Regions from separate parts of the Homo sapiens genome. Here region 2 is linked to region 1. The links come from fine-mapping of genetic effects on plasma protein levels. A gene starts in region 1. The other region holds a variant in brackets. All regions are shown on one strand. Distances are between the middles of the regions. Region 1 holds the start of DBH (dopamine beta-hydroxylase). Region 2 overlaps SARDH (sarcosine dehydrogenase).

The links. PIP is the chance, under the fine-mapping model, that this variant and not a neighbour inherited with it causes the effect. Protein levels are from antibody-based Olink assays in UK Biobank. Linkage for the fine-mapping came from a reference panel and not from the study's own genotypes, which makes the PIPs less certain.
Region 2: its variant is fine-mapped to the plasma level of the DBH protein (UK Biobank, PIP above 0.99).

Annotation. Positions count from the first base shown.
Region 1 is chr9:133,624,470-133,639,789 of GRCh38, forward strand. It overlaps DBH (dopamine beta-hydroxylase), which reads left to right and starts at 11,894. Exons shown (of 12, transcript NM_000787.4): 1 at 11,894-12,241. The coding sequence starts at 11,903. RefSeq lists an enhancer at 13,159-13,894.
Region 2 is chr9:133,713,609-133,728,928 of GRCh38, forward strand. It overlaps SARDH (sarcosine dehydrogenase), which reads right to left. Exons shown (of 21, transcript NM_001134707.2): 7 at 5,330-5,434; 8 at 3,718-3,847. Among named protein-coding and RNA genes, the nearest start is that of SARDH, 17 kb to the right of the region's middle. RefSeq lists enhancers at 1,995-2,698, 2,699-3,400, 13,833-14,343. The variant G/A (reference allele first, on the strand shown) is at 7,459.

The sequences.
Region 1 (15,320 bases):
GATATAAAGAATTACCTGGAACTGGGTAGTTTATAAAGAATAGAGGTTTAATTGACTCACAGTTCCACAGGTTGTACAGGAGCAATGGCTGAGGAGGCCTCAGGAAACTTACAATCATGGTGGAAGGTGAAGAAGGGGAAGCAGGAACATCTTCATGTGGCAACAGGAGAGAGAGAGTGAAGGAGGTTAGTGCTACACACTTTTAAACAACCAGATCTCATGAGAACTCACTCACTATCATGAGAACAGCAAGGGGGAAATCCACCCCCATGATCCAATCACCTCCCACCAGGTCCCTCCCCTAACACTGAGGATTATAATTCAACATGAGATTTGGGTGGGGGCACAGAGCCAAACCATATAATTCCACCCCTGGCCCCTCCAAAGTCTCATGTCTTTCTCACATTTCAAAACCAATCATGCCTTCCTAACAGTCCCCCAAAGTCTTAACTCATTCCAGCATTAACTTAAATTTCAAGTCCAAAGTCTCATCTGAGACACGTCAAGTCCCTCTGCCTATGAGCCTGTAAAATAAAAAACAAGCTAGCTACTTCCATGATACAATGGGGGTACAGGCATTGGGCAAATGCTCCCATTCCAAAAGGGAGAAATTGACCAAAACAAAGGGGCTATAGGCCCCATACAAGTCCAAAACCCAGCGTGGCAGTCATTAAATCTTAAAGCTCCAAAATAATCTCCTTTGACTCCATGTCTCACATCCAAACAACACTGATGCAAGGGGTGCACTCCCAAGGCTTTGGAATATTTCAATCAATCAATCAGTCAATAGACTCCCTCCTATACCATATTGATGTACTGTTAATGGCAACAGATGATTTCTGCCACAGGGGTGACAACATCAACCAGACTAGACAAAGAGATTGGCACTAGGAATTCCACAAGAGGTGACCATTTATAAGAACCTGGAATGGACCTCCATCCCTGTGATTCTGCAGGGCAAAGCCCCCACAGCTGCTTTCACAGGATGGCATTGAGTGCCTGCAGCTTTTCCAGGTGCATGGTGCAGGCTGTCAGTGGATCTACCATTCTGGGGTCTGGAGGATGATGGCCCCCTTCTCACAGCTCCAGTAGGCAGTGCCCCTGTGGGGAGTCTGTGTGGGGGCTCCAAACCCACAATTCCCCTCTGCACTGCCCTAGGAGAGGGTCTCCATGAGGGCTCTGCTTTTGCAGCAGACTTCTTCCTGGACATCCAGATATTTCCATACATCCTCTGAAATCTAGGCAAAGGTTCCTAAGCCTCAACTCCTGCCTTCTTTGCACCCATAGTCTCAACACCACATGGAAGCCACCAAGGCTTGGGGCTTGCACCCTCTGAAGCAATGGCCAAGTTGTACCTCAGTCCCTTTTAGCCACAGCTGGAACTGGAGCAGCGAGGATGCAGGGCACCACGTCCAGAGGCTGCACAGAGCAGCAGGGCCCTGGGCCTGGCCCACTAAATTATGTTTCCCTCCTAGGCTTCCAGGCCTGTGATGGGAGGGGCTGCCTCAAAGGTTTCTGTAATGCCCTGGAGGCATCTTCCCCATAGTCTTGGCTATTAACATTTGCCTCCTCTTTACCTATGCAAATTTCTGCAACTTTGAATTCTTCCCCAGAAAATGGGTTTTTCTTTTCTACCACATGGTTAGGCTGCAAATTTCCCAAACTTTTATGCTGTGCTTCCCTTTTAAATATAAGTTCCAATTTCAGACCATCTCTTTGTGAACACATATGAGTATATGCTGTTAGAAGCAGCCAGGTTATGTCTTGGATGCTTTGCTGCTTAGAGATTTCTTCCACTAGATACACTAAATCATCTCTCTCAAGTTTAAAGTTCAACAGATCTCTAGAGCAGGGGCACAATGCCACCAGTCTCTTTGCTAAAGCATAGTGAGAGTGACCTTTACTCTAGTTCCCAATAAGTTCCTCATCTCCATCTGAGACCTCATCAGCCCGGCCATCTCTGTCCACATCACTATCAGTATTTTGGTCAAAACCATTCAACAATTCTCTAGGAAGTTCCAAACCTTCCCTCATTTTCCTGCCTTCTTCTGAGCCCTCCAAGCTGTTCCAACCTCTTGCCCATTACCCAGTTCCAAAGTAACTTCCACATTTTTAGATATCTTTATGGCAATGCCCCACTTCTTTGGTACCAATTTTTTGTATTAGTTCATTCTAACACCGCTATAAAGAACTACCTGATACTGGGTAATGTATAAAGAAAAGAGGTTTAATTGACTCACAGTTCCATAGGCTGTAAAGAAAGCATGGTTGAGAAGGCCTCAGGAAGATTACAATCTTGGTGGAAGGTAAAGGGGAGGCAAGCATATCTTCACAGGGTGGCAGGAGAGAGAGAGGAGGGAAGTGCTACATGCTTTTAAACAACCAGATGTTATGAGAACTCACTCACTATCACGAGGACAGTGTGTTAGTCTGTTCTCACGCTGCTAATAAAGACATACCTGAGACTGGGTAGTTTATTTAAAAAAAAAGAGGTTTGATGGATTCACAGTTCCACGTGGCTGGGAGGCCTCACAATCATGGCGGAAGGCAAAGGAGAAGCAAAGTCACATCTTACATGGCGGCAGGCAAGAGAGCATGTGCAGGGGAACTCCCTTTTATAAAACCGTCAGATCTCGTGAGACCTATTCATCATCATGAGAACAGCGTAGGAAAGACCTGCCCCCGTGATTCAATTACCTTCCACCAGTCCCTCCTCCAACAGTGAGAATTACAATTCAACATGAGATTTGGGCAGGAACACAGATCCAAACCATTTCAGTGGCCTTGGCCAACCCACCATGCTGAGACACTTCAAACCCAGACCTGTTCTCCTGGGACCAAACAGGCCTTTGGCAATCCCAGCACTTCCAAGACATCCTGTTGCTCCAGGTATTGACCAGTGCCACCCAGAAAGATATCCTCATCAGCACTGTAGCTCATGCTACCTCCTCACCTCCTACGTGACACAGACCATCTCTGTCCTGGTCATTTTAATTCGCCCTTTCCCCAGGGCCTTATGGGGCCAAGTCTCTCCATAACTTGATCAGCAGAGGGGAAATTGGATCAGGGTGTGCAGATCGTTGCCTGCTTCTTACTTTGTGAATGTCAGAAGCCCCCAGGCACAGAGACCTGCTTGTTTCCAAAGTCTCATCTTTGAAAAGCAGATGGCAAGGCTTAGGCTTGATTGAATTTGTGTTTATGTATGTGATGCATTTGATTGTAGCTGGAGGGAGGCTGCCTGGTCCAATAGCTAATTTGGCCCATCAACAGGGTTTAAACCTACTTACCTGTTAGAAACTATTTGTTCCATGGAGGCAGTTGTGCCTTTGGCTGGTGGCATAACAGCCAGCGTCTGAGCATCCCCCTTGACCAAAGCCTTTTGAACCTGTGGGTTGATTTCAATTAGGGAGCCCAAAGTCCTTGGCTCCACAGCCCGGGCTCTGAGGACTGATGCTATAGAGCCGTGGGTACAAGTGTATGAGGGCCGGCAGACAAAGGCAAGAGTTGCACCGCTGTCACTCATAGTTTAAGAAACAAACGACCCACATATTTATCAACAGGGAGTTGGCTAAATCAATCAGAGACCATGCCTGCAGTGGGATACTTGAGAGCTGTCAAAGGCGGAGGCAGCACTGAGCGTGTATACTCAACATATATCCAACATGCACGTGGAAAACACCAGTGGCAGGACAGTGTGTACAGCAGGCCATTTAACAAACAGTGATGGCTCCTCAAAAATTAAAAGTAGAATTATCACAGGATGCATCAATGCCATTTCTGGGTACACACTCAAAGGAATTCACAACAAGGATTCAAAGAGGTATTTGCACACCCAGCAGCATGATTCACAACAGCTAAAAGATGAAGCAACCCAACTGTCCATCTACTGATGATGGATACATCTAGTGTGATCATTCATACAATAGACTCTTCTCCAGCCTTAAAAGGCAAGGAAGCTCTGACACATGTTACAACCTGGATTCACCTTGAGGATAGTATGCTCAGTGAAATAGACCAGACACAAAGGATAAATCCTGTATGGCTCTATGTCTATGTGGTCTTAGAGTCATCAAAATCATGGAGACAGAAAGTAGAATGGTAGGTGCCCAGGGCTGGGGGAGGGGGAATAGGGAGCTGTTGTTTCATGGGCACAGAACTTCAGTTTTGCAAGATGAAGCGTTCTGAAGACAGATGGTGGTGATGGTTGCACGGTAATAGGAATATGCACTGAAAGCCATTGAACTGCACGCTTACAGTGGTTAAGGCGGGACATTTTACATGATGTGACAAATCAATAATAAACAATTTTAAAAATTTCAGAGAATGAAAAGCTGTTCTGACAGACGACATATTGAGCTGTTAATGGTAGTCGTATTTGAGGGAGTGATTCTGCGCCGTGTTTTTCAGGCTTGTCTGGATGTTTATAATGATAGAGCTCGCCACCGTGGAGGGAGCCCTCACTAAGCACAGATGGTCCAGCCTCTGCCTGCACTGACTCGGGGAGCCCCCAGCCTGAGGAAATGCGAGTGTAATTCTGTCACTGTCCCCATAAGCTGAGGAAACAAGGTACAGAGGTTGAGGAACATGCACCTGCCTCTTTCTGCCTTTGTCTTGATTACTTCTCTGGGATAAGGACCATGTCCCTCCCAGTGAAACTCACCTAAATGTCAAGGGACAGCACTCCTGAGCCTCAGCCTCCACATTGCTTGCCCCCGGGTAGGACCACAGATGCCCCCTCGGCCCTGGGCGCTGAGGCCAGTGGAAGCCCTGCTGAGCCTGCGAGGCTCTGCCCTTCAGCATCTCTGGGATCAGGTTTCCAAGAACACCTGGCCCTGAAATGGGCATGGGGGGTGGGATGAGGGCTGACTGACCACTCAGACCTTGGGGCCCAAGTCCCCTGTTCTCAGCCAAGGCCCAGGGAGTCAGGGCAGGTCCGGGGGTCCTGGGCTGGGTGGCGCCGGTCTCAGCCACATAGGTCTGTGTCCAGTGGGGTGTGGCAGCCGCGAGCTCCAGGGGTTGGTGGTGAAGTGGCCCATAAGCCCTGAGCGGGGGTCTGAGGGCTGGTCGCTGGCATTGTAGCCTTTGCCAGGCAGCTCACTCGAACCCTGCCCGCCCACTCTGAGGCTGCCATAGCCCCCATCTTGAGAGTCAGCAGAGCCTGCATGGAACCGCCCGGGAGGCCCAGGCCAGCCTTCCTCTCCAGACTCCATGGACGCCAGACGCCACGCTCTTCCAGGCCTACCACTCTGCAGCCACCACCCATGACCACGGAGCCCTGGCCAGTGCCACTTGTCTCTAGGCCTCGGCATCCTAAGTTGTGAAATGGTGACAGTCAGGGCCTCCATGTGACTTGGAAGGGTTGGGTGCCCTCACTCACGAGAACGCCCAGTGCCTGCATGCTCGCCTAGGGAAGAGGCAGGTGGGCTGCAGACACGGCTCCTACGAGCCTGTGGACTCAGAGGGCATCTCAGGACTCGGGAGCCCAGACCACAACCTGGTGACAGCTGTCCCACACAGGGCTCCCACTGCACATGGCATGGTGCAAAGGGCATTGACCCTCAATTCTCACCACAACCCCCATCTCCTGGGCCTGCCCAAGGCAACTGGTACCCCACAACTTCCTGCATCTCTGCCCCCCCCTCCCACCCTGGGGTGGGCTTGGCTGTGTGAGTGGACTTGGCCCACCAGCCGGCAGCCCCCATGCTGGGCTCTGATACCCCAGGAGCGTCCTTCTGCCAGTGAGGGATGGGTGTGGGAAGGTGAGGGCCCCGGCTTCTTCACCCTTGATGTGACAGTTTTGGGGTGCATTCCACAGTCTCTCCAGGGTCCCCTTGGAACTGAGTCCCTACTGCCCATGGAGGAAACTGATTATGAAAGTACGGTTCGTGAGTGTTCCCACTCCCCTGCCCACCCGTCTCCGCACACTCTGAGCTCTCCTTCCACACAGCCTGCTCACATCCAGACCCTTGCCTCAGCGTCTGCTTTTGGGAGAACCAAAACCATAACAGGACAAAAAGAAGGGAACACAGTCTCCGACTGCACTTGGGGGTCCCACCAGAGTGTGACGGTGCCAGCAGACACTAGGAGAGGAGGGCGCTTGTATTTCCTGTGGCCACTGTAACAAATGACCAAAAACTCTGAGGCTTAAAACAACACGATTTTTTTTTTTTACAGTTCTGGAGGTCAGAAGCTCTAAAATCAAGGTGTCTGCAGAGCTGGCTCCTTTTGGGGGCTCTGGGAGGGGAATCTGTTCCCACCTTTTCCAGCTACCAGAGGCCTCCACATCCCTTGGCTCATGGCCCCTGCTCCGTCTTGGAAGCAGCCTCCTCTCCTTGGACCCCATCAATGCATCTCCTTCTCTCTCTCGTAGGACCTTTGTGATGACATGGGGTCCACCCAGCCAATCCAAGACCACCTCCCACCTCCGGGTCCTTAATCTAATCACACTGAATGTCCCTTCCCCAGGTAGCCTACCCGACTTGCAGGGATCTGGACGTGGCCATTGGGGGACATCCCTCTGTCTGTCACACCACACGCCAGAAGCTCAGAGAGATTCCAGGGAGGGAGGCGGATTCTCATGTTCTCCGAGACCCTCCTGGGCCAGAGCCCTGCCTGTTGGACCCTGTGATGTCAGTGGGTGCAGCAGCCCCCGAGATGGATGCGGGTGAGGGCAGCCCGGGGCTGTCTCGCTAGCCCTCACTGCATCGGCCCCATTCTGGGTCAATGGTAGGTCAACCTGGTGGATCTCTGAGGTGACCAAGCTTACTGACAGATGAACTACAGCCTCAGGAAGAGGGTCATGGCTGGCAGGAGCCAGCGGGGGGCAAGACCAGCAGCCCTGAGTGCTGGTGCAGGCCACGCAGGGCCCAGCCTCTGTAGCCAGAAGTCAGCGCCAGTGCCGGTCCTGAGCAAGATGGCCATTTCACAGATGAGGAAAGAAGGCTCAGGGCTGTGGGGACTGTCCGGGTGGGTCACATGGCCGGCAGGTTTCAGGGCCTCTCTTTCCATCTGGTGCCCACAGTTACGCTGTGGCTTGGGTGTGGTCTGGAGCTACTGCCTCAGGACCCACCACCATCCTGGCAGTGTGGTCCCTTCAGAAAAGCTGAAAATGCAAAAATCAGGCACATGCACCTCCCCCCATGAGCTGCTCAAGAGAGAGGAGCAGTCACGCATCCTTATGGAGAAAAGGAGAAGCAGGACCCAGAAAGGGTTTCCCTGTAAGATTCCTCAGGGCCCAGCAGGCCTCAGCCCCAAGATTGAGGCCAAATTATTGGAGGGGTGTGTGTGTGTGTGTGTGTGTGTAAAACTGAGTATGTGAGCATGAGCCCAGAGCTGGGGGTGCAGGCCACGCAGGTGTGAGAGTCCACCTCCCCATCTCGCTGACCCCTGTGTATGGAGGAGAGATGGAGGCGGGGGAGGCTGTGTCCTGCCCAGGCCAGCCGCCTGCCAGTGACAGTGGAGGACTTGCTCACAGTGGGGCTGCTTGGGGTCACACAGGAGTGGCCTGGCAGGCCTGGCAGCCCCAGCCCTGGAGCCAGCCACAGACTCCTGGGTTCTGCTTCCCTGGGAGCTTCCAGGGGAGTGTCACTGGGGCTCACGATACCGACCCCTTCTGGGATCAGTGGCCCCTTGCTTTTGGCACAGAGCTTCAGGGCCAGAGGGTGCCTCTAATCCAGTAGCTGAGGAAAGCTTTCAGTGGTGCTCTGGGCACCTCTGTGACCTGCCCTGGGCCCAGTCCTCATGCTGATCCCACTGTAGCCACCCTACTCAGTGCCCCAGGCCCTGGACACCTCAGGCCATGGGATATCCCAAGCATTCAAACTCTCACGGCCACCTACGCTTATGAGCAGAGGCAGAGGCATGGTGCCACCGCTGCCTCCTCAGGCAGGATATGCTTTTTGTTTGTTTGTTTTGAGACAGGGTTGTTCGCTGTCATTCAGGCTGGAGTGCAGTGGTGTAGTCAGGGCTCATTGCAGCCTCAAACTCCTGGGCTCAAGCGATCCTCCCGCCTCAGCCTCCCGAGTAGCTGGGACTACAGTCTTGTGCCACTATGCCTGGCTAATTTGTTTTTATTTTTATTTTGGTAGAGACTGGGTCATGCTATGTTCCCCAGGCTGGTCTCGAACTCCTGGGTTCAAGCAATCCTCCCGTCTTTGCCTCCTAAAGTCCTGGGATTATAGAGGTATGAGTCACTGTGCCCAGCCCAGAATGTGCCTCTTAACTTTCATACCGCAGCCCCTATGCTCAGGACGAGGAGGGACATAGGCCAGCTGCCCCAAGTTCCCCAAGGGGACTGTGCCACCCTGGAGTGGGCTCTGTGATGGACAGAGTCACCGTCTCCCAGCAGCTCCCAATCCATCCCATCACAAGTCAGGTCTAGGCACTGCCATCAGACTGATAGTTGAATTTTTCCTGCCAAGAGGAGGTCCCTAAGAGCCTGAGCCACAGGCGAGGGACAGTGCTGTCCTGTGGCCAGGCCCCGTTGTCACTGGGGAGTGGCCTGGCCTGTTCACTCACCCAGCTCCAGTCTGCACCACCGTCGCTCCACTTGGGGTTGTCACTGCCTGAGGTTAGGACGTCAGCAGAAGCCAGCCTCATGTGGCAGAGGCGATGGGGAATTACAGCCTGCAAAGGCTGATGGCATCAGAGAGATTCAGGAAAGCAAAGGGCTTATTAAAAAGCTGAAATTGGTTCTAAACAAGGTCAGCCGTCGATGCGCCTTGGAGGGAAGCCAGGCGCTGAGCAGCAGGAATGGGGCTTATTTCCTGACACCGTGGCCGTGACACCCTGCACCTCCCCGGCCTACCCCACCCCCAACCCCACTCCCACCCCCATTCCCATCCCCACCCCCACCGCCACCTCTGGAGGGCAACGTGCACCCAGACACTGGAGCAGAGGCAGCAGGGGTGGGAGCAGGGAGGAAAGCCCCCCGCGGGGCACCACAGGGAGGCATGTGGCCAAGAGAGCACCTGGCAAGCAGGTGTCACCTCTGAGGAGGGTGAGGGCAGGAGGAGAGCTGACTGTTGCTTCCTTACCCTGGGGTCGGATTGCTCCCTTTTAAAATCCATTAATGCAAGGAAGGGCGCAGCCACGGGGCCATCCGATTGGATTCGCTCCCTCCCGCCCGGCCCCAGTCTCCGCAGATTTTCTCTGCGGTTGCATTTTTCATTTGAGCGTCCCTTCCTCTTGACTCCAGTGGAATTTTTCTGACCTTGGCTGACAAGGTGTGCAGCCCCCTCCAGCTCAGGGCACCCTCTTTGGGGTGCTTGCCCCAGGCACTGGCCCACCCTGTGAGCTCAGGCGCATTGTCTCGCCTCTCCGAGGCTGACTCTCCTGTGTCTGAGACAGGGATGATCGCACACCCAGCCACCCAAGGCTGGCCAGGATGGAGGCAGGGCAGGGGAAGCCCTGGTGCGGCCTGACTTGTGTCTCCTGTCCCTCCCTAGGACTTAGTTATCAGTATTTTGGAATCAGCTGAATCATTTCTGTCAAATGCTAGAGGAAAGCCAGTTTTGAGTTGGATAAAGAAAATGTCTTTGATTCCTGTTAAAAATAAACATGTGTGCATAACACTGCTGAGCACGAGACCGCACCTGCCGTCCCTCCTTAGAGCTCCCAGCAGCTGTTGGTCTTTGGCGTATCCGGGAGAGGAGCGAGGCCTGGAGGTGTGTTGAGCCGTCCAAGGGCTGGTAGCATCAGGGGCTCTTCACTGCCTCTCGCTCCACAGAACCGCTGGGTTGAAGGAAGCTGGAGGGATCAATTGTCCTTGTCATCCAACTTCCTGTGTCTGTAGATGGGGAGGAGGCGCTGGGTTGGAAAGCGCTTCTCTGAGGACGCCAGCTGCGCATTCAGGAGGGCGGAGCAGGATATGACCCCAGAGCTCTGACCCCGGAGGAGCAGGAGGGGTGCCTGGGGCCTCAATACCCCAGAGGGGAGAGAGGTGCCCCCCTTCCCACAACGCGGGCCCCAGCTGGTGCTCGTTTAGCCTGTTGTCTAGCTGGAGCCACCTGGGTGGCCACCAGGCTGCTGGGAGGGCTCACCCCTGAGCTGGGTGTGCTGTGGAGCCCGTGACCCTCACCTCTGCCTCTGCTGGCTTTTGTTATCCCGTGCTGGGAACACCAGTGCCTGCCCACCCCGGAGGCTCTTCGTATCACCGGCTCGCTGTGGCCGCTCCCCAGTCCCGAGAGTGAATGTCCGGGATGCAGCAGACACCTGCTTACAAGGCACAGGTGAGGAGGTTTTGGAACTAATCTGAGGCATGAAGGTGAGGTGCTCTCAGGCGACGGAGGTGGCATGTCCTGATGGGAAAGCCAGGCCTTCGGAGGCTGAGACCCTTCCCAAGGCTCACCAGAGAACTCCCAAGAGTGTCTTTCCCCTGGCCTGGGAGACAATTTCACACCAATGCCACACTCTATTGCACAGGTGATTATGCACTTGGACCTCACCTGCCTGGGCTGTGGGTGGGGGCGAACGGTGCCCCTCTGGGTGCAATCAGTGGGGAGGGGCTCATGGCCTGAGCTTGGCTTTGCAGGATGGCCTGGCCACTGTGGGGCAGAGAGCACTGCCTGCGAGGGCCAGGGGAAGGCTGGCACTTTCTCCAAATTTCACGTTCGTGCAAAGACACAGTCATTCCTTTCTACAGCGTAGAGCTCAGAGCTGAAGCAGCCTCCAGACCTGCTGTCATGGGTATTTAAGGACCTAAATGTTGCTGTCAGCCTATGACATGAATGTGCCCCTAAGGCTAGATTCTGGGTTTCTCCAGAGAGACGAGAAACAGGAGGGAAAAGGAAGGAAGGGAGGGAGGAGGCTGGGGAGGAGGGACAGCTTCTAGTCCAGCTGGAGAGATCTGTCAACCCAGCCTGGGGGGTGGAGCTGGAGGGATCAAGCAGAATGTCCTGAAGGCAGCTGCCCTCAGTCTACTTGTGGGAGAGGACAGGAGGGAGAGGTGCCGTGGTGAGACTGACCCTCGGGCCCACGGGTGGATGATGGCAAAGGTCCTGTGGCAGGTGTGGGAGAAGCAGGGCTGCGGCCAGCTGCCCTGAGAGGCTTCAAATTCAGGCCAGATCTGCTCTGGGCAAGAGGAAGCTGTGGGTTTGGGAGCTTCAGAGACAGGGGAGCAGGCCTGTCACTCACCCTCTTTTCCTTAAAGGCTGTCACCCCCAGCAGTGCACCCTGCAGCCTGCCTATCCCCTGTGCAGCTCCAGCTCCGTCTGTCCCCAGCAATGCACCCCACGCCCATGTCCCCCACTCCCTATGATGCTCTCGCGCCTTCTGGAGCAGCAGTGGTACCAGCTGGAGGCTGTGGAAAAATTGAGAGGAGACAAAAGTGGGAAGAGCAGGCCGTGGAGAGAGTGTCTAAACACAGGGACTATTTGGAGATTGTCTTATTTTTGGTTTGAAATGGGCCCACCTGCTAGTATTGTACAAACGGCTCTGCTCGCTAGGCCAGGCCTGCAGTGGCTACGGGCCTATCCTTCACTGGTCAGCCTGGAGCAGCTCCTCGGACCTCAGTCTGCTCATCCGTGGGTAGAGGCGACGCAGACCCCATCCCACTGGGGACTGGGCCAGACAGCCTGTGAGGCAGTCAGCTGGTGCCTGGCCAGAGGGTGTCTGAAAGGCCTCTTGGCTGCAGGGTGCATCTGCTTTTGGGACAGCTCTTCAGAGCCATCTCAGAAGGGACAGCATCCGCCTGTCTACTTCAACTCCCACTGATGACGTCCATGTGTCATTAGTGCCAATTAGAGGAGGGCAGCAGGCTGAGTGCTTGGCCTGGGGCGCAAGCTTGTGGGAGGGAAAATTGGATTCCCCGCTAGACAAATGTGATTACCCGTGCTGCCTGGACCCACCCCATTCAGGACCAGGGCATAAATGGCCAGGTGGGACCAGAGAGCTCACCCCAGCCATGCCCGCCCTCAGTCGCTGGGCCAGCCTGCCCGGCCCCAGCATGCGGGAGGCAGCCTTCATGTACAGCACAGCAGTGGCCATCTTCCTGGTCATCCTGGTGGCCGCACTGCAGGGCTCGGCTCCCCGTGAGAGCCCCCTCCCCTATCACATCCCCCTGGACCCGGAGGGGTCCCTGGAGCTCTCATGGAATGTCAGCTACACCCAGGAGGCCATCCATTTCCAGCTCCTGGTGCGGAGGCTCAAGGCTGGCGTCCTGTTTGGGATGTCCGACCGTGGCGAGCTTGAGAACGCAGATCTCGTGGTGCTCTGGACCGATGGGGACACTGCCTATTTTGCGGTGAGTCTCTCCTCCCTGCCAGCTCTCCAAACCCTTCCTGACCCGGCACCCCATCTGGCCGTCTTTCTGCACTCACCCTCCTTAACCCAGAAAGTTCTTCTGTCACCTGTCAGTGTTTGAGTTGACTCTGCTCTGAGCCAAGTCTGCACCCCGAGCTTGGGCATCATGGGGATCTCAGTTTGAGGACAAAATAGGAAAGACATGCTTTCCATGGTCCTTGACTGCCCGCCCCAAATCATGGGACCCAGTAATCCCAAGGAATGGAACTATACACAGAGGACGCACACACCACACACACTCGTGCCGCTCCACACCCCACACGCGCATGAGCACAGACCCCACGACCCTCGGCCCTGTAAACAATGCCTAGTACCACGTCCCCAGAGCACACATGCCCACTGATGTGGGCCAGGTGGTGGCGCGTGGCTGGGCACAGCATGAGGCCTGCACACCCATGGGATCCAGCCTGACCTACTGTGCTTGTACCCGTGGACCAACTGAGCAGGTGCAGACACCCTGCCCCTACCCATAGGTGTTGAACAAGCCCCACAGGGCTCAGCCAAAACTGTTAGGATGGGCTCTTGACTCCTTTCCGTCCAAATTTACCTCCACTCTTGTTTCACAGGGTGGAGAAAGGGGAAAAGTTTCCCTTCAAACTGGAGGGGACTTTAGGCCCTTCCACAAGCTGCAGGGGGTCCCCGAAGTGGGCGAGCCCACCGCCTACAATGGGTCCTGCTCCAGCCTTCCTTTCCACATGGGACTGGCCACCAGGGCTTCTTTGTGGATGAAACCCAACTCTCTCCACAGAAACACACAAAGGAGTGACAAAAAAGTTTTATTTCTGAAGTCAGGAGGTGCCTGCTTTATCTGGGAGTGCCGAGCTGGAGCGGGGGAGCTGTGTCTGTGCGGAGCGGCCGGCTCCAGCTCTGCATCTTGGTCTCACCATGGGCTGGTGGGGCGGAGAGTCCCTCTCTGCCTTTTTGGGTGTTGTGAATTCATGAGGGCAGATGGTGGCTGCTGTTTCTGGAGCTGAGCTTGCCCCCTCCAATTCCCAAGACTCGGCCAGGAGGCACTTGCCTGTGTCGCTAGTGAGGCTTAGGGCCACCCAGGTAGGGTGAGTGGAGCTGCCTGGGAAGGGCCCTGCTCTGACCCATAGGGCTGCACAGATTCCTGTGCACAAAGACACTCTGTGGCTCAGGTTCCAGCCAAGAAAGACCTGGGACAGCCCTGATTCTGAGCCGTCAGCCGTCTGGAGGAGCAGCTGAACCCCATCGCTGACAGTTTGGGGTTCTTCGCAAGCCTCTGCCATGAGGCACCCTGAGTGCAGGAGCATTTGCTCCTCTCTGGGGCAGCGTCCCCCCTGCCTGCATTTCCCGGCTGCTAGGGAAGCCAGAGGAAGCCAGGTGACTTTGCCTTTCCGTGCACTGGCAAGGTTAATTTGCACAACAAATTCCTACGAAAGCAAATGTCAGCCTTATTATTCCTCCCTAAGCAATATGTTCAACTAATATCTTCTTGATTTCCAGCTGAAATATCACAGGCGAACTTTCTGCCTCTGTTTAAAATGAGTCTCTCGGCAAACCAGCGGTGTCCCCAGCGGGGTTGCATTGTGTGGCTTTTTTCTCTAGGGAAAGTTTTGCAGTATCTTTTGCAGATTTCTTTTTTCTCAAGGAAATGAAGAAAAGATGTTTTACCCTGAATGTAAGATTAAAAAGAAACACAACCCAAAGTCCTTAAGGCCAAGGGCCCGAGGCTTTCTTGGGGTTTCCATGGGAAAGGCCAGGCAGGGCAGGGAAGCAGCTTCGTTTGGACAATTCTGGTGGGCTCTGGGTGGCTGGGGTGGTCTCTAGTTGCCTGGTTCCTGGCCCTAGGGTGTTTTAGGGTTGGGGCAATATTGGCCTGGGGTGTGAGAGTCAGGTGGAGGAGGTAGCTAGGGATATGGGCTTGGTGTGGGTCGGAATGTTAGGAATATGATTCTCACACACGTGTGAATGTTGGAGGGCAGGACAGGTGTAAACAACTCTGACCATCTGTTTGAGCCTTCAATCAATTAATAGATGCCAAATAGACAAATATGGAATCTAAGAAGGGCCCTTCTTGAGTACGAAGGGCAGCCTGCTTGTTGGGGAAGGCTCCTCGCTGTCTCTCAGTGGGTCTCCCTGGTGGTCTTCCATGTGACCTGGCCTCGGGCCACCGTGTCCCTGCCCCTTAGGGCCCAGTGCAAGGGGAGCGGCCGGAGACGGGGAGGGCAGAGGTCACTGATCCAGATCCCAGGAAGCATCCTCGGAGAATGCAGCAGGTCCAATGCCTCCCTGGGCCTCAGTTTACCTTCTCCAAGCAGGGCTGGGACTAAGGTGAGGGGAACAATGCCTAGGCTGCAGGGTTTAAAGTGGTGCTTCAGGCTGGGTGTGGTGGCTCATGCCTGTAATTCCAGCACTTTGGGAGGGCAAGGCAGGAGGACCGCTTGAGGCCAGGAGTTCAGGACCAGCCTAGGCAACATAGCGAGACCCTATCTCAAAAAAAAAAAAAAAAAAATCCAAAATTACATGTATTTATAAAGTAATAAAGCAGTGCTTGTTCTCAGGGTTGTGCCAGTGCAGGGTGGGCACCTGCTATCAATCACCATCTTAGATGTGGCACCCTGGTTTCTCTCTCCTTTCCTGTTCATGTCCCACCCTGTTCCCAACTCTCCCCTTTCTGAGGCTCCGCAACTCTCCTGCCTGCATGAATGTGGGCAGCATTGGTCTGAGGCATTGTTCCCAGTCTTGAGGAGGCCTTGGGAGCCTCAGGCATCTTCTTAAGAAGCTCAGTGTCCCGCCCGCCAGGCCCGGGAATGCCCATGGCTAACAGAACCTGTGACCTGCTGGCAAGTGACAGCCCTGGTTCCTGGCTGCAGAGGAGGAACCAACTCCACTGTCGGGGCTCATCTCCACTGTCTCCAGGCAGAAATGGAGATAGAAGGTGTGAGTGAAGCCACAGCCCCAGGCAGAACCCTCAGATCCACAGGGACTGAGGCCCAGCATCCCCAGATCAGCTGGCAATGAATGCGGAGCTCTGCCGGGGAATGCCCTCTTCCCCT
Region 2 (15,320 bases), 89 kb after region 1:
GAGCCAACAAAGGCTCCCAACTTCTGCGGGGGAGGAGACCAATGTCCCACTCCGGCGGCCACAGCTGAGCCTCAGACAGAGGCCAGGACACGGTGGGAGGGGAACCCTGGCTCTCTGTGGCCACAGTCCTGGATTCAAAACCTGCTTCACCCCTTCCTAGCTGTGTGGCATTGGGCGAGTCACTTCGCCTCTCTGAGCAAGGCTTAGCGTCCTAGTCTATAAAACTGGGATAGCAGAACCTCCACAGAGCTGTGCGCTCGCCAGCCTACAGACGTTCATGTCCTGGGCTTGGCCCTGGGAGGCAGCGCTGAGCAGGACATGTCCCAGCCCTCGAGGAGCTGACGGAGGGAGGGAGCAAATACTTAAATAAGCAAAAAACAGACGGTCTCGTAAAGAAAATACGATGAACTGAGGGCCACGCGTCACTGAGGTGCCAGCTGCTACTGTTGGCACCCCAGCACCACACCATGTTAGACTCTAGATGAGGAAGCGGCCGGCCCTGGTCTGAGGGACCCCAGGGCACTTCGTTCGTGAACGATGATACGGGGATGGCTCCAAGTCTGGGGGGTCATCCTCTGCATGCAGATCAGGAGCAAGTGCCGTCCCGCTCCCTGGAGAGCAATCAGGGCCCCCACGCTAGGAGCTGAGGGGGCAGAGAGCCACGGGGAGCCTGGGCTAAGAGCCTGGCCAGGAGAGGCAGGGCTCCTTGAGGGGCAGAAGGTGGCAGGGCCACTGCAGGGGAGGGTGGAGGAGGCAGGCTAGAGGGGCAGGGCCCTACGTGGAGGGCCTGGGTTATCAGGGCAGAGGGCAGAGGCCGGAGCAGCCATCTGGGTGAGAGACAAGGAAGGCTCCAGAGAAGGTGACGATGGGGCAGAAAGAGTGAGCTGAGGCCGGGTGCAGTGGCTCACGCCTGTAATCCCAGTACTTTGGGAGGCCAAGGCAGGCGGATGTCTGGAGCCCAGGAGCTCAGGACCAGCCTGAGCAACATAGCGAGACGGCATCTCTACAAAAAAATCAAAAAATTAGCCGGATGTGGTGGAGCGAGCCTGTAGTTCCAGCTACTCAGGAGGCGGAGAAGGGAGGATGGCTTGAGCCCAGGAGGTAGAGGCTGCAGGGAGCCAAAATCGCACCACTGCTCTGCAGCCTGGGCAACACAGCAAGACCTTTAAAAAAGGGGGGATTGGGGAGGTAACCTGGGCTGGGTTTGGGGATGGCCCAGGGAGCACCTTGGGAGGGCTGGAACTATTTCTAGGCCCAGGGAGGGCAGGAAAGAAGCTCTGAACAACCTCACAGGGAATCTGCGGGGAGCGCTATCAAGAGCTAGCGGAGGGGCAGCTGCAGGGAACAAGGGTCTCTTGGATGTTTCACAAATGACTCATGCGGGTTGAGTAACCCGAGGACACATGGGACCTCCAGGCAACATGGCCAGGGGCCAGGCCTGCGGCTCCCACCCTGACCTTGGTGAGCTCCACCATCCTGGAATGAGAGCTCTGCCTGCCCTCCCAGGCGCTCCCTAAGTCACGGGGGCCTGGGACTTCCCTGCTCTTTCCTGGAGGCCAAAGGCCATTGGCCGTGCCTGGCAAGGAGAAATGCTGATTCCCCACCAGTCTCCCATCCAGCCGACAGACCAGATCCAAGATGTCCTTGCCTGCACATCTTCCCCAAAATAGGGCTTCGTGGGGAGTACCGGCTCCCCAGGCTAATTAAAACGAGAGGAAGAGAAAGATAGAGAGAGACAGAGAGACGCCTGGGGTTATCTGTGCCCCTGGGATTCTTCCGGGCCTGTGTTTCTCGCTGCCAGACCCACGCAAGCTGCGGGGTGGGGGCAGTGAGTCACGGCTGTGTGCTCCTACCCTGCACGCTGCCCCGGCCCCTGGGGCTCTATCTGCTTCTCCCCGGGGCTGCACTTCACTCCAAAGGCTCCCATAGGAGTCGAATTCATTCAAGTAGCCCCTGCTGACGGCTGAGCAGATGCTGAGCGTGCCAGGACAGAGGGGGCTGGACTCCTCGGTGGCCACAGCCCTTCTGTGTCGGGACTCTTCCCTGTCTTTAGGGCCCTCATCCGCTCCCTGCATGGCCCGTGGAAGTCCCTGGGCTCCCCGCTTTGTGCCGCCCACCTCTACTCAAATGCTCTCTACAGCTGCTGGGCCTGGCCTATGCCCTGCACCGCCCCTGTGGCTTCTGGTCCCTAGGCCACCCTGCCGAGTCAGTGCTCCGTCACCATCTCACAGATGCACCTACTCCAGAGGGCACCCATTCCAGTGCCCTTCACTAAAGGCACAGAGGGACTCACCAGGCTTCTGACACGAAGTTTCCCTGGGGGCAACACTGTGTCTTCCTGAACCTCTCTCCCAGCCCTGAAGCGGGGCCAGAGCTCCCCCTACCAGGAAGCAGTGGGGAACACCATGTGATTCTGCTGGAACCCCAATGTGGGGGATTGTCTGTGCCCACCTGGTGCTCCCCTGCTCAGATCACGTATCCGCGGCAGGCCCAGCGCTGACTCGCCCTCCAGGGCCGGGCTAGGCTGCCCCTCCTCCTGGCCGCCCGTCTGTGTCCTCAGGCTGTGGCCACCCAGTCACCCCATGCCTCGTGTCAGAGCACCCACCCACGGGCTGTGATCAGTGACTTGCATTGGGTCTCCCCTGCCAGAAGGAGGGCGCTGGCCCTGAGCGTGCCTGCCTCCACCACCGACGAAGTGCCACTTAATGTAGAATGAATGCCCTCATGAAGGAATGCTGGTGCTCTGGGGTCACCGGTAGCTCCTGGGCTGCCCCACACTCAACTCAGGGACGTCTGGCTCAAAGTCCCGTGGTTATAAACACTGGGGTGCCAAGGTCAGCTGCAGCCCCTCCTGCTTCCCAGAGAGTGCACCTTTGCCAGGGCCCAGGCCAGCAGCCTCAGCCCCACACCCGCCCCCTGGGGCAGAGCCTTCCGGGCTCCCCAGGCCAGCAGCCTCAGCCCCACACCCGCCCCCTGGGGCAGAGCCTTCCAGGCTCCCCAGGCCAGTAGGGTGGGGTGGGGCTGAGCTGCGCTGTGGATGACCCACGTGGGGCATCTGGGAGCTGAGCCCACCTTTTTGCTCCAGCCTCTTCCAGCTAAGTTCTCCTGGGGCTAGCAAGGAGGGCCAGAGTTAGGGGAATCTTGACACAAGAACCTTCCCCCGCTGAGCTGGCCTCCAGGTGCAAGCCGCCAAGAACAGGAGGGAGGCCAGCAGCATGGGGTCCTGGCCAGGGCAGTGCTCTCTGGGAGCGGTGGGGGCTGGGGCTGGAGGCAGAACTGGGACTCACAGCTGTATAAGCCTCTCATCAGGGAAGGTCTCAGCCCTTCCATTCCTGGCTCAGCCTCACAGGGTGCTGGGATGTGGCCCGCTATTCCCATTTTACAGATGAAAACACAGAATTCCAGGGACAAGTCAAGTCTAGGGATGAAGAAGCCCAGGTGGGGAAGCCAGGACCAGCCACCCTTGAGGCAGGAGGAGGCCCTGGCCTCGTGCTTGGGGCAGATGATGGCCCTTGTGAAGCCCAGGCCTCTCGCCCGTAGAGGGGAATAAAGGCCACACCTAGTACCCAGGGCTGCTGGAGCCAAGCAGCGAGAGGGACCGGGGACAGCCCTGGGTCCCCTGTGTGACACAGGCTGGTCTCACGGGGCATCACTACTAACAGTCATCAGACCAAAGGACCCATGGACGCCCACCCCAGCTCCGAGGCTGTCACTCACCAGGGCCGCAGACCGTGGACTTGATTCCTGTCTTCTCCAGCACGGGGACCCTGTTGATGGCGCCTTCAATGTGCTGGGTGAACACCTCCCAGTCCAGGTCAAAGAGGCCGAAGGCAAACTTGTCTGACACCTGCCAAGGCAGGGCAGGGGAACATCTCCGTTGTCCCCAAGAAGGCCATGCATCCCCATGCCAAACCTGCCTTGTGATGGCTGCCAGGCCAGCCTCTGCTGAATCAGATGCATTAGAGGGCTGGTGGTCACCCACACGTCCCAGCCGTTTGTCTCCCCCACCCACCAACCCATCAGCAAGGTCTGTCTGCTCCCCCTCCCCACCCCAGCCCAGGCCTCCACCCACTCCCCTAGATCCCACCATGCCCCTTCCCTACTCACAAGCCTCCTCTGGCCCCCTGCAGCTCACGATGGCCCCAAAGCCCTGTATGGCATGTGCCAGCCTGCCTACCTCTACCACTGGGCCCGCCACCCTGACCTTCCTGCAGCTCTTTGGGAAGAGCAAGCTTGTGTGAGCTCAAGGCCTTCACCCCTCAATGGGGCAGTTCTTCACCCAGACCTGGCACGCTGGTTTGTTGTCGCGGTGCAGGGCTCTGCTTGGATGTCCCCTCCCTGAAAAACCCTGCCCTGACCACCCATCTAAAGGATATCCTTCTGCTCCAGTCTCTCTAGGCTGATCCTTAACCTGCTAATTTTATTCAGTGCGCGATCATCTTCCAGAATTTCATTCCTTGTTCATTTGTTTGTTTGTTTGTTTGTAACAGTCTCACTCTGTCACCCAGGCTGGAGTAAAGTGGTGCGATCTCGGCTCACTGCCACCTCCATCTCCCGGGTTCAAGTGATTCTCCTGCCTCAGCCTCCCAAGTAGCTGGGATTACAGGTGCCCGCCACCACACCTGGCTAATTTTTGTATTTTTAGTAGAGTTGGGATTTCACCATGTTGGCCAGGCTGGCCTCAAATTCCTGACCTCAGGTGGTCCGCCCACCTCAGCCTCCCAAAGTGCTGGGATTACAGGTGTGAGCCACCGTGCCCAGCCATTTGTTTGTTTATTGTATGTCTCTCCACCAAAATATAGGCACCCAGAGTCAGGGACTTTTATCTTAGTTTCCCTCTTTCTCCAGAAATTAAAGCAGTTTTTAGCCCAAAGTAGCCACTCAGTCGTTCCATGTGTGGACTAAATGCATATACACATAGAACAGGGCTGCAGGGCTGCCCTAACCCCAGAAGCTGCCCGGGAAACAGCCCAGGCCAGGGGAAATGCCGCTGCAGCAGCTGGTTGGGAGGGCAGTGTCATTTGCTGAAGGACGTAGGACTTGTGTGCTCTCATGCCCTTCTGAGGTCATCACTCCACACTGCGCAGACCTTCTCTGTGGATGTTTTGAGGCAAAGCCCTCCAGCTGCCCTGGGTCTGTATTTGACTGCCTGCCAGGACCGTCAGGGTAAGAGCAAGATGGCTTTGAGCTTGGTGGGGTCAGGGGACCGGCCACTTCTCAGGTGTGCCTCTGAGGAGCTTCAGGAGGATGGACTTCCTGAAAGAGGCCCTCTCCATGCTGAGATGCAGCCCCAACTCCCTCCCATTATCCCAGGGCCCTGGCATCTTACCTCCTCCCAAAAGATGGGGTTGGCCTCATAGCCACCCACAGACAAGGCATCCCCTTGGAGGCGGAGGTAGACAGAGGCATCATGATCACGGACATTGGGCATGTTCTGGAAGGCAGAGAGAGAGGCCTTGGCATCATCCAGAACTGGGTGGGGACTTGGTTCCCCATGCCCCGTGGTGGGCCAGCACCTCCACCCAGGGTCACGGGCTCGAGATGGTCCTTCTCGTTGTAGGACCCCGAGGACAGAGTGGACACGGGGCCTCAAGTTACACACAGTGAATGGGTCACTGCCATTCAAGCCTCTCCTTCCCCAAATCCCATAAAATAACAGCAAAAGGGGAAGAAGGAAGAAGGAATGGATCGAGGAAGAGAGCAAGGGAGGAAGGGAGGGAAGCAAAACATATAACCGACAAAGATGAGAGAACAGGCAGAGGCAGCAGTAGAGGATGGGAGATTCCAACCAACCCTGGAGGACGCAGAGTGGATGGAGGAGGGGTGAGACTTAGCTGGGGCTGGAGGAGAGGGAGACTGAGCAAGGCAAGCCAGTGTGCCCCTCCTGCCTCCTCTTGAATCTTCAGAGCCACCCCAGGTCCCTCTTCAGGGGGTGATGCGCTTGCTCATGTATGGAAGGATCTTCCTCTGGAGAGGTGGGTCCTGAGAGGCTCCAGAAGTGGGGAGAGTGGACTGCCATCCCCCCACCCCCCCACCCCAGGAGCAGATTGGAGACTCTTCTGTGAGACACTGAGAGGCCCAGGGAAGGCTTGAGATGTTGACACCAGGGTCTCTCTAAAAGCGAAAGGCTTGCCGCCCACCCTTCCTGAGAGGCTCTCCAGTCCTCCCCTCCAAGCCTCCAATCACACTGCTGCTCACTCTCTCCTAAAAACAAAACCACAGGCCAGGCACGGTGGCTCACACCTGTAATCCCAGTGCTTTGGGAGGCCAAGGCAGGCAGATCACGAGGTCAGGAAATCAAGACCATCCTGACTAATATGGTGAAACCTCGTCTCTACTAAAAATACAAAAAATTAGCTGGGCGTGGTGGCGGGCGCCTGTAGTCCCAGCTATTCGGGAGGCTGAGGCAGGAGAATGCGTGAACCCAGAACGTGGTGCTTGCAGTGAGCCGAGATCGTGCCACTGCACTCCAGCCTGGGTGACAGAGCAAGACTCCGTCTCAAAATAAATAAATAAATAAATAAAACAAAACCACAGGCCAGGCACTGTGGCTCACACCTGTAATCCCAGCACTTTGGGAGGCCGACATGGGTGAATCACCTGAGGTCAGGAGTTCAAAATCAGCCTGGCCAACATGGTGAAACCCCATCTCTACTAAAAATACAAAAAATTAACCGGGCGTGGTGGTGGGCAGCTGTAATCCCAGCTACTCAGGAGTCTGAGACAGGAGAATGGCTTGAACCTGGGAGGCGAAGGTTGCAGTGAGCCAAGATTGCACCATTGCACTCCAGCCTGGGCAACAAGAGTGAAACTCTGTCTCATAAATAAATAACCACAAACCACAACAAGAACATCAGGAATACAAGAAGATGGTGTATTAGTGTGTTCTCACGCTGCTAATAAAGACATACCCAAGACTGGGTAATTTATACAGGAAAGAGGTTTAATGGACTCACAGTTCCACATGGCTGGGGAGGCCTCACAATCATGGTGGAAGGCAAATGAGGAGCAAAGGCATGTCTTACATGGCAGCAGGAAAGAGAGAGAGAGCATGTGCAGGGGAACTCCCTTTATAAAACCATCAGATCTCCTGAGACTTATTCCCTACCATGAGAACAGTATGGGGGAAACCACCCCATGATTCAATTATCTCCACCTGGCCCCACCCTTGACACATGGGGATTATTACGATTCAAGGTGAGCTTTGGGTGGGGACACAGCCAAACTGTATCAGAGTGACAGACAGTGCTATGAGAAAGGAATCTAAGATGAAGAAAGAGGTCTTTAAATGAGATATGATAGTCAAAATTTAAAATTCAATGGAAGGGCCAGATAAGGCTGGGGCCATCATCCAGCGATTAGGCTAAAAGAAAAAGACAACAAAACAGAAATCAGGAGTGGAAAAAAAATAAGAATATCAGAAGGTCCGTCTTGAAAGTTCAACATCCATTTTACAGC[G/A]GTTCCAGAAAGAGAAGACAGAGAAAAATGGAGTCGAGAAAAATGTCCAAGCAACAGCCCAAGAAGAGTCCTCCGATTGAAAATCACGCATTCATATGGAAGGGCCCAAGAGTGCCCACCAAGCCCTGAGTCTGGACAGAGGCCTGCACCAAGGCCACGCCGTGGGAAACATCACAACACCGGATGGCCAGGAGGGCCATCAACAGGGGACTGCATCGCTGGAGGCTGGAAGACATGGAGCAAACTCTTCAAACGTCTAATGGATGATTTTCAACACAGAATTCTAGATCCTGTCAAGCCATCAATCGAGTGTAAGCAAAGAATAAAAGCTTTTTCAGACATTCATGGACACAAAACATATACTTCTCTCGTACTCCTTTGCAGTAAACAGCCAGAGAACACGCTGTGACAAAAGGAAGAAAATAAACCCAGAAAGAGTGAAAGCCATGGCTCCAGCGGGGAGGCGTGAAGAAGGCCCTGGAGTGACAGCTTAGACCATGCAGCGGTCAGTCCAAAAGGGAGCGGAAGATCTGAAGGCAGCAGGAAGTCCTCCAGGGGAGGGAAATGGGACTTGGGGGCGTTAGGTGGTTTATCTGATGTGTGTGCGTATTCAGAAAATAGTATCAATAGTATCAATATGTTTGACAGATCCCTTGACACAACTGGGGAAAAATAGTGACAGTTATATATACACATGCAAATACCCCCAACAAAACAATAGCAAACTGAATCCAGCAATATATAAGAGAGATGATACACCATGGCCAGACTGGACGTGGTGGCTCATGCCTGTAATCCCAGCACTTTGGGAGGCCAAGGCGGGAGGGTCATTTGAGGTCAGGAGTTCGAGACCAGCCTTGGCAACATGGTGAAACCCCAACTCTACTAAAAATACAAAAATCAGCTGGGTGTCGTGGCACATGCCTGTAATCCCAGCTACTCAGGAGTGGAGGCAGGAGAATTTGCTTGAACCCAGGAAGCGAAGGTTGCAGTAAGCCAAGATCACACCACTGCACTCCAGCCTGGGCAACAGAGTCTCACTCTGTCTCAAAAACACAAAACAAAACAAAACAAAACACCATGGCCAACTGGAATTTATCCTAGGAAGGCAAGTTTGGTATAATGTATGAAAACCAATCAATAGAATACCCCACATCAACAAAGTACAGGACAAAAACCACGTAATCATCCCAGTAGATGCATGAGAAGCATTTGACAGAATCCAACATCTTTAATGATTTTTTTTTTTAAAGCCTCAACAAACACTTAACAAACTTGGAAGAAGGGAACTTCCTCAAAGTGCTGAAGGGTATCTACAAAAACCCACATGGAATGTGATACTTCAAGGAAGAAGGATGGCTGATTTCCCCCCAAGATCAGGAATTAGAGAAAGATATCCATTCTTACCCCTTCTACCCAACATTACATTGGAGGTTTTAGCCAGGGCAGCAATTAGGCAGCAAAAGTAATAAAAGGCACCCAGATTGAAAAAGAAGAAGTAAAAATATTCCTATTTGCAGATAACAAGGTCTTGTATATACAAAATCCTAAGGAAACCACTAAAAAACTACTAGCGCTCTCTCTCTCTCTCTCTCTCTCTCTCTCTCTCTCTTTCTCTCTTTCTTTCTGACAGAGTCCTGCTCTATCGCCCAGGCTAGAGTGCAGTGGTGCCATCTCAACTCACTGCAACCTGCACCTCCTGGGTTCAAGTGATTCTCCTGCCTCAGCCTACCGAGTAGCTGGGACCATGCCTGACTAATTTTTGTGTTTTTAGTAGAGACAGGGTTTCACCATGTTGGCCAGGCTGGTCTTGAACTCCTGACCTCAAGCAATCCACCCACCTCAGCTTCCCAAAGTGCTGGGATTATAGGCATGAGCCACTGGGCTCAGCCAAAAAACTAATATATTTCTATACTCTAGCATTGAATAATCTGAAAAGGAAGTTAAGAAATAATTTCATTTACAATATCATCAAAAATAATAAATATGCTTAGGAACAAATTTGACAAAAGAATTGCAAAACTTGTACTCTAAAAACTAGAAAATACTTTCGAAAGAAATTAAAGAAGACCTAAATAAATAGAAGGACATCTCACGTTCATGAAATGAAAGACTTATTTTTGTTAAGCTGACAACACACCCCAAATTGATCCATAGCTTCAACACAATGCCTGTCAGAATCTCAGCTAGTTTCTTTGAAGAAATTAAATAGCTGACCCTAAAGTTCATACAGAGATGCAAGGGACCAAGAATACCCAAAACAATTTTGAAAAGGAAAAACAAAGTTGGAGGATTCACACTTCTTGATACCAAACTTACTGCAAAGCTACATAATCAAGACAGTGAGGTACTAAGTAAGGATAGACCTACAGATCAATGGATTAGAATTGAGAGTCGAGAAATAAACCTTCTTCTGCCAGGCATGGTGGCTCACGCCTGTAATCCCAGCACTTTGGGAGGCCAAGGCGGGTGGATCACAAGGTCAGGAGATCGAGACCATCCTTGCTAACGTGGTGAAACCCTGTCTCTACTAAAAAATACAAAAAATTAGCCAGGCGTGGTAGCAGGCACCTGTAGTCCCAGCTACTCGGGAGGCTGAGGCAGGAGAATGGCATGAACCCAGGAGGCAGAGCTTGCAGTGAGCAGAGATCACACCACTGCACTCCAGCCTGGGCAAAAGAGCGAGACGCTGTCTCAAAAAAATAAAATAAAATAAATAAACCTTCTTCTTCAGAGTCAATTGATTTTCAGCAAGGGTGCTAAGACAATTCCTTGGGGGAAGCAGACTTTGTAAAAAATGTTGCTGGGCCAACTGGATAGCCACATGCAAAAGAATGCAGTTGGACCCCTACCTCACACCATGCACAAAATTTAACTTGAGATGGATTACAGGCATAAGTATAAGAGCTAAAACTATAAAAGCCTCAGAAGAAAATATTAGAAGTAAATCTTTATAGTCTTGGGTTGGGAAATGTCTTCTTAAATATGACACCAAGAGCACAAATGACAAAAGAGGAAAAAAAGAGATGAATTGGACGTTATTAAAATTTAAAACTTGTGCTACAAACCATACCATAAAAAAGCGAAAAGGCTATGTAAAGACTTCTGGATTCTGGGGGAAAAAAAGAAAGGGAAAAGACAACCACTGAATAGAAGTTTCAATCACTGAATGGAAGAAAATGTTCATAAATCATATATGTAACAAAGGACCTGTATCCAGAATATTTAAGGAACTCCTACAACTCAATAAAAAGATAAGCAACCCTATTTTTAAATGGGCAAAGTGTCTGAGTAACCATTTCTCCAAAGAAGATACACAAATAGTCAGTAAGCACATGAAGAGATGCCCCACATCATGTCATCAGGGAGATGCAAATCAAACCCACGGTGAGACACCACCTCACACCTTCTAGGATGACCGGCATAAAAAAAGACAAAAAATAACAAGACTTGGTGAGGATGGAGGGGAGCTGGAACCCCTCCGTATACCTCACTGGTGGGAATGTAAAATGGTGCAGCTTCTTTGGAAAATAGTCCGACAGTTCGTTGAAATGTTAAATAGAGTTACCATATGACTCAGTAATTCCACTCCAGTGTATAGACTGAGTATTCCTTATCTGAAATGCTTGGGACCAGCAGTGTTTCACATTTTTAATTTTTTTTTTGATTTTGGATGTTTGCATTATACTTACCTGTTGAGCATCCCCAAACCAAAAATCAAAATCCAGAATACTCCAGTGAGCATTTCATTTGAGCATCATGTTAGTGCTCAAAAAGTGTTGGATTTTGGAGCATTTTGGATTTTCGGATTTGGGGTGCTCAACTTGTTTAAACTCAAGAGAAATAACAACATAGGTCCCCACAAAAACATGCATATGGATGTTCACAGCAGCACTATTCAAAATAACCAGAAATGAGAAACACCAAATGTCCACCAGTGGGTGAACGGATAAAGTGCATTGTATCCATACAATGGAGTATTATTCAGCTGCAAAAAAGAATGAAATACTGATACATGTACTACACGGACAAAACCGTAAAAAGAAGCCAGACATCATGTGATTCCATTTATACTAAACGTCCAGAATAGGAAACTCCATCGAGGCAGAAATCAGATTTGGGATTGCCTAAGTCTGGGGACAGGGTGGGAAATGGGGAGTGATTGATAACGGGTATGGGTTTTGGGGCATGAAGATAATGTTACACACACACACATAACAGTTACAAAAGAAACTGAGCAGCTGGGACAAAAACTGTTAATAACTCCAAGAAACACAAAAAGTTGGACACTACTTGCTCAGGTATTAACAATGTTTACATAATCAGCTAAGCATGGTGGCTCACGCCTGTAATCCTAGCACTTTGGAAGTCCGAGATGGGTGGATTGCCTGAGCTCAGGAGTTCGAGACCAGCCTTGGCAACATGGTGAAACTCCGTCTCTACTAAAATACAAAAAAAAATCAGCCGGGTGTGGTGACGGGCACATTTAATCCCAGCTACATGGGAGGCTGAGGCACGAGAATTGCTTGAACCCGGGAGGCGGAGGTTGCAGTGAGCTGACACTGTGCCACTGTACTCCAGTGTGGGCAACAAAGTGAAACTCTGTCTCAAAAAAAACAAAACAAAACAAACAAACAAAAAAGCAGTGTTTACATCATCATAATATTGCAGAGAGGAACCACTGATTTAACCAATAAACAAGCCAAACCAAACAAGACCGTTTAGAAAGCAAGCAGGCATGGCGTGTGGACTCCTCTGTACCCGAGGAACAGCCTTCTCTCAATCCCTCTGTCACCTGCCCCAGAACTGGAGATGAGCACAGGGAGATACGACCCCTGTCCTGTCTCTGGGAGCAGGAAAGGGGATGTGCAGAGACCAGAAGGGACATTCTGGCAGATGCTTCCTCCCTCTCCGCCAGGATCCCAGGAGTCCTGTTCATTGGAATGAGAATATCTGCACCAGGGGATCGTTGTCAGGTGGCACATAGAAGTTCCTAGTAACTGAGCACTGTTTAAAAATAATCACAGCCGGGCAAGGTGGCTCACACCTGTAATCCCAGGACTTTAGGAGTCTGAGGCAGGAGGATCGCTTGAGCAGTTTGAGACCAGCCTGGGCAGCATAGCAAAACCCCATCTCTATAAAAATACAAAAATTAGCCAGGAGTGGTGGCACATGCCTGTAGTCCCAGCTACTCGGGAGGTGGAGGTGGGAGGATCGCTTGAGCCCAGGAGGTCAAGGCTGCAGTGAGCTATGATCATGCCACTGCACTCCAGCCTGGGAAACAGAGTGAGACCCTGTCTCAAATAATAATAATAATAATAATAATAATAGTAGTAGTAGTAGTAGTAGTTATATCCTTACCTCTGCTAGCACTACTACTCTAAAAACAAAGCCAGCCCCAGAGTTCCATAGAGCAGGACAGTGGGGACACCTGGTGGCCAGGGAAGCCCCTGATGTTTGTCCCAGCAGGATCCATGTCTGGACTTACCTGCCCCTTGCACAGATCCTGCTGCCTCTGAGCACCCAGCGGAGTGCCCAGTTCAGCATCAGCGTCCAGTGGAGCCCTGGCCTTTCTCTCCAGGCAGCAGCCTCCTGCTCTGGCTGTCCCCAGTCTGGCCCTGGTGCCACTGACTCCCTGCCTCCTGACCTCAGCCCATGCCTTCCATCTGCCTCTTTCTTCCATCTGATCCCTGCCTGATTGCTCCTGCCCTCCGTGTTCTCTTCCTCCGAAGCGCCAGCTGGTGACGACTTCACAACCCTCTGTCCTTGTCCTTGTCATCACACAGCTACCACCTCATGAGCACCTGCTGTATGCCGGGCACCACTCCCAGCTGCATCACTCTGTCCTTCCTGCAGCACAGCCTGAGGCAGTAGGGATGGTTATGACCCATTTTGCAGGAAAGGGAACCAGAGCGGTGACAGACTTGGCCAGCCTGGGTAATGGAGGAGTCAGTGTTTAAACCCAGCACCCAGGCTCTTACCCACAGCTCTGCCCACGGATGGAGCAGCCGCTCCTTGCCACTGCAAAAGTACGCCAGAGCACGACTGTGAAACCCCCTAACAGCGCCCGAGCCACCTGCTTTAATGATAGCTCAGAGAGGGAAGAGATGAGCCCTAGCCACAAAGGAAGCTGTGGGCAGAGCTCTCTAGGACCCAGGCCTGGGACAGATCCTCAGAAAAGGGAGGTCCTTGGGGCCACACAGCCCTCCAGCCACCCAAGAAGAAAGATGAACCACACGTGAGACCTGAGCCCTCACCTGCCAGCTGGAGCCCCCAGGCCCCAATGTGTGTGGCTGTGTCTGATCAGGGTAGACAGCGTCCTGCTGCACGAGGCTGCCACGCCCAGGGAGCTTCCTGAGCAGACAGAAATGGGCTGCACAGGTGCCATGCGCCCAGGAGAGGGCCCCCTGGCTTGTTCTGTGGCCCATCCAAGGGTCAGACCACAGCAGGTGGGCAGGTCAGGGCCAGCGGCCTGGCTCCTTCCTCAGATTCACACCAACTGCCTAGCTGCAGCCTCTGGAAGGGACAACTTCCAGACACCTGCACATGGCCAGGTGTCAGAGGAACATGAGGGGCTTTGTGCGAAGCCCCAGATCTCCACTTTTCTCCTACCAGGTCTCAGAGCTGCTGGGGCTGATGGCCCTTTTCCTGTGCTCCGGTACCAGAGGCACGCTGGGATCTGGACTGGCTTTGTAAGTAACACCCCCTAGCTTCGCTTGAATCTTGACATACACAGGAGGGGGCAGCTGCAGGGACCTAGGCCAACTCTGCCTTGCTTCTTCCCTGGAAAGGCACCTCAAAGGCAGGCCTTGGGAGGAATTAGGGATGGAGGATGGAGCCACAGTCCTGGGCTCGGTGGACATTCTGTGGCCACCCTCCCTGACGCCCCAGGACACAGCTCTGCCCGCCCTCCCAGAACCCACTGAGACCTGAGCGTGACCCCTGGCGGCCACCTAGGGGAGGAGGCTCTCCCCAGGGACCCGGAGCCAGGGAGGAGGCCTCAGCACTCAGCTCCGACACCCACCGTGTGACTACTCTTAGTCCCTAACCCGGCACATGGCACCAGCCACCTGCAGTGAGAGGCTCATTCTATGAACAAGAGGTCTTGTGTCCAGTGGGGCGTGGCTTGCCCAGCGCACAGGAGTCAGAGGCAGCAGCGCACTGGGACCCAGGTTCCGGCCCCATTTCGCCACCCGCTTCACTACCCTGGTCTACGAAGCAGCCAAGCCTGGTACCTCCCCGGTGACCATAGGGAAGCCAGGCTGGCACAGGGTGGCAATGGGCAGCCCCCAGGGACGAGGCTCCCAGCTCAGGGGCCCAGGCTTCCCTCTCACTGGCCCTGACCCTAAACAAGGGCAGTCTGTTCTCACACTGACCCTGCCCCACAGCCTCTGGCCCTGGCTCTCTGAACGGCCATGCTCTGTGCACGCTCCTTGTCCACCATGCCACCCTCAAGAGCCTCACCTAGATGCAGCTGCCTCCTCCAGGGAGCCTCCCCTGGTCCACTAGGGCTGGGAATTCCTATAGCCCCTGAGACCCCATCAGAGCCCTTATCAGCATGTTCTGGAATTGCACATGTACTTGTCTGTACCTCCCCCCAGCTCTACCCAGCAAGAACTAGGTGTCTGTCTGTGTTATGGCCACAGCTTCTAGAATAGGGCCTGAAACACCAAGCTCACCCATCAATGTCTGATGCAGAGAGGGTTCAATGGAATGTGAATGGTTGGATTAATATGTGGGTGGATGCTGAAGGAAGGGCAGAGGGAGAGATGAGTGGCTAGAGGGAGGGAGGGAGGGATTGATGGGTAGAAGTTTAGGTGGGTGGGTGGATGGAAGGATATATGAAAGAAGGGATGGACAGA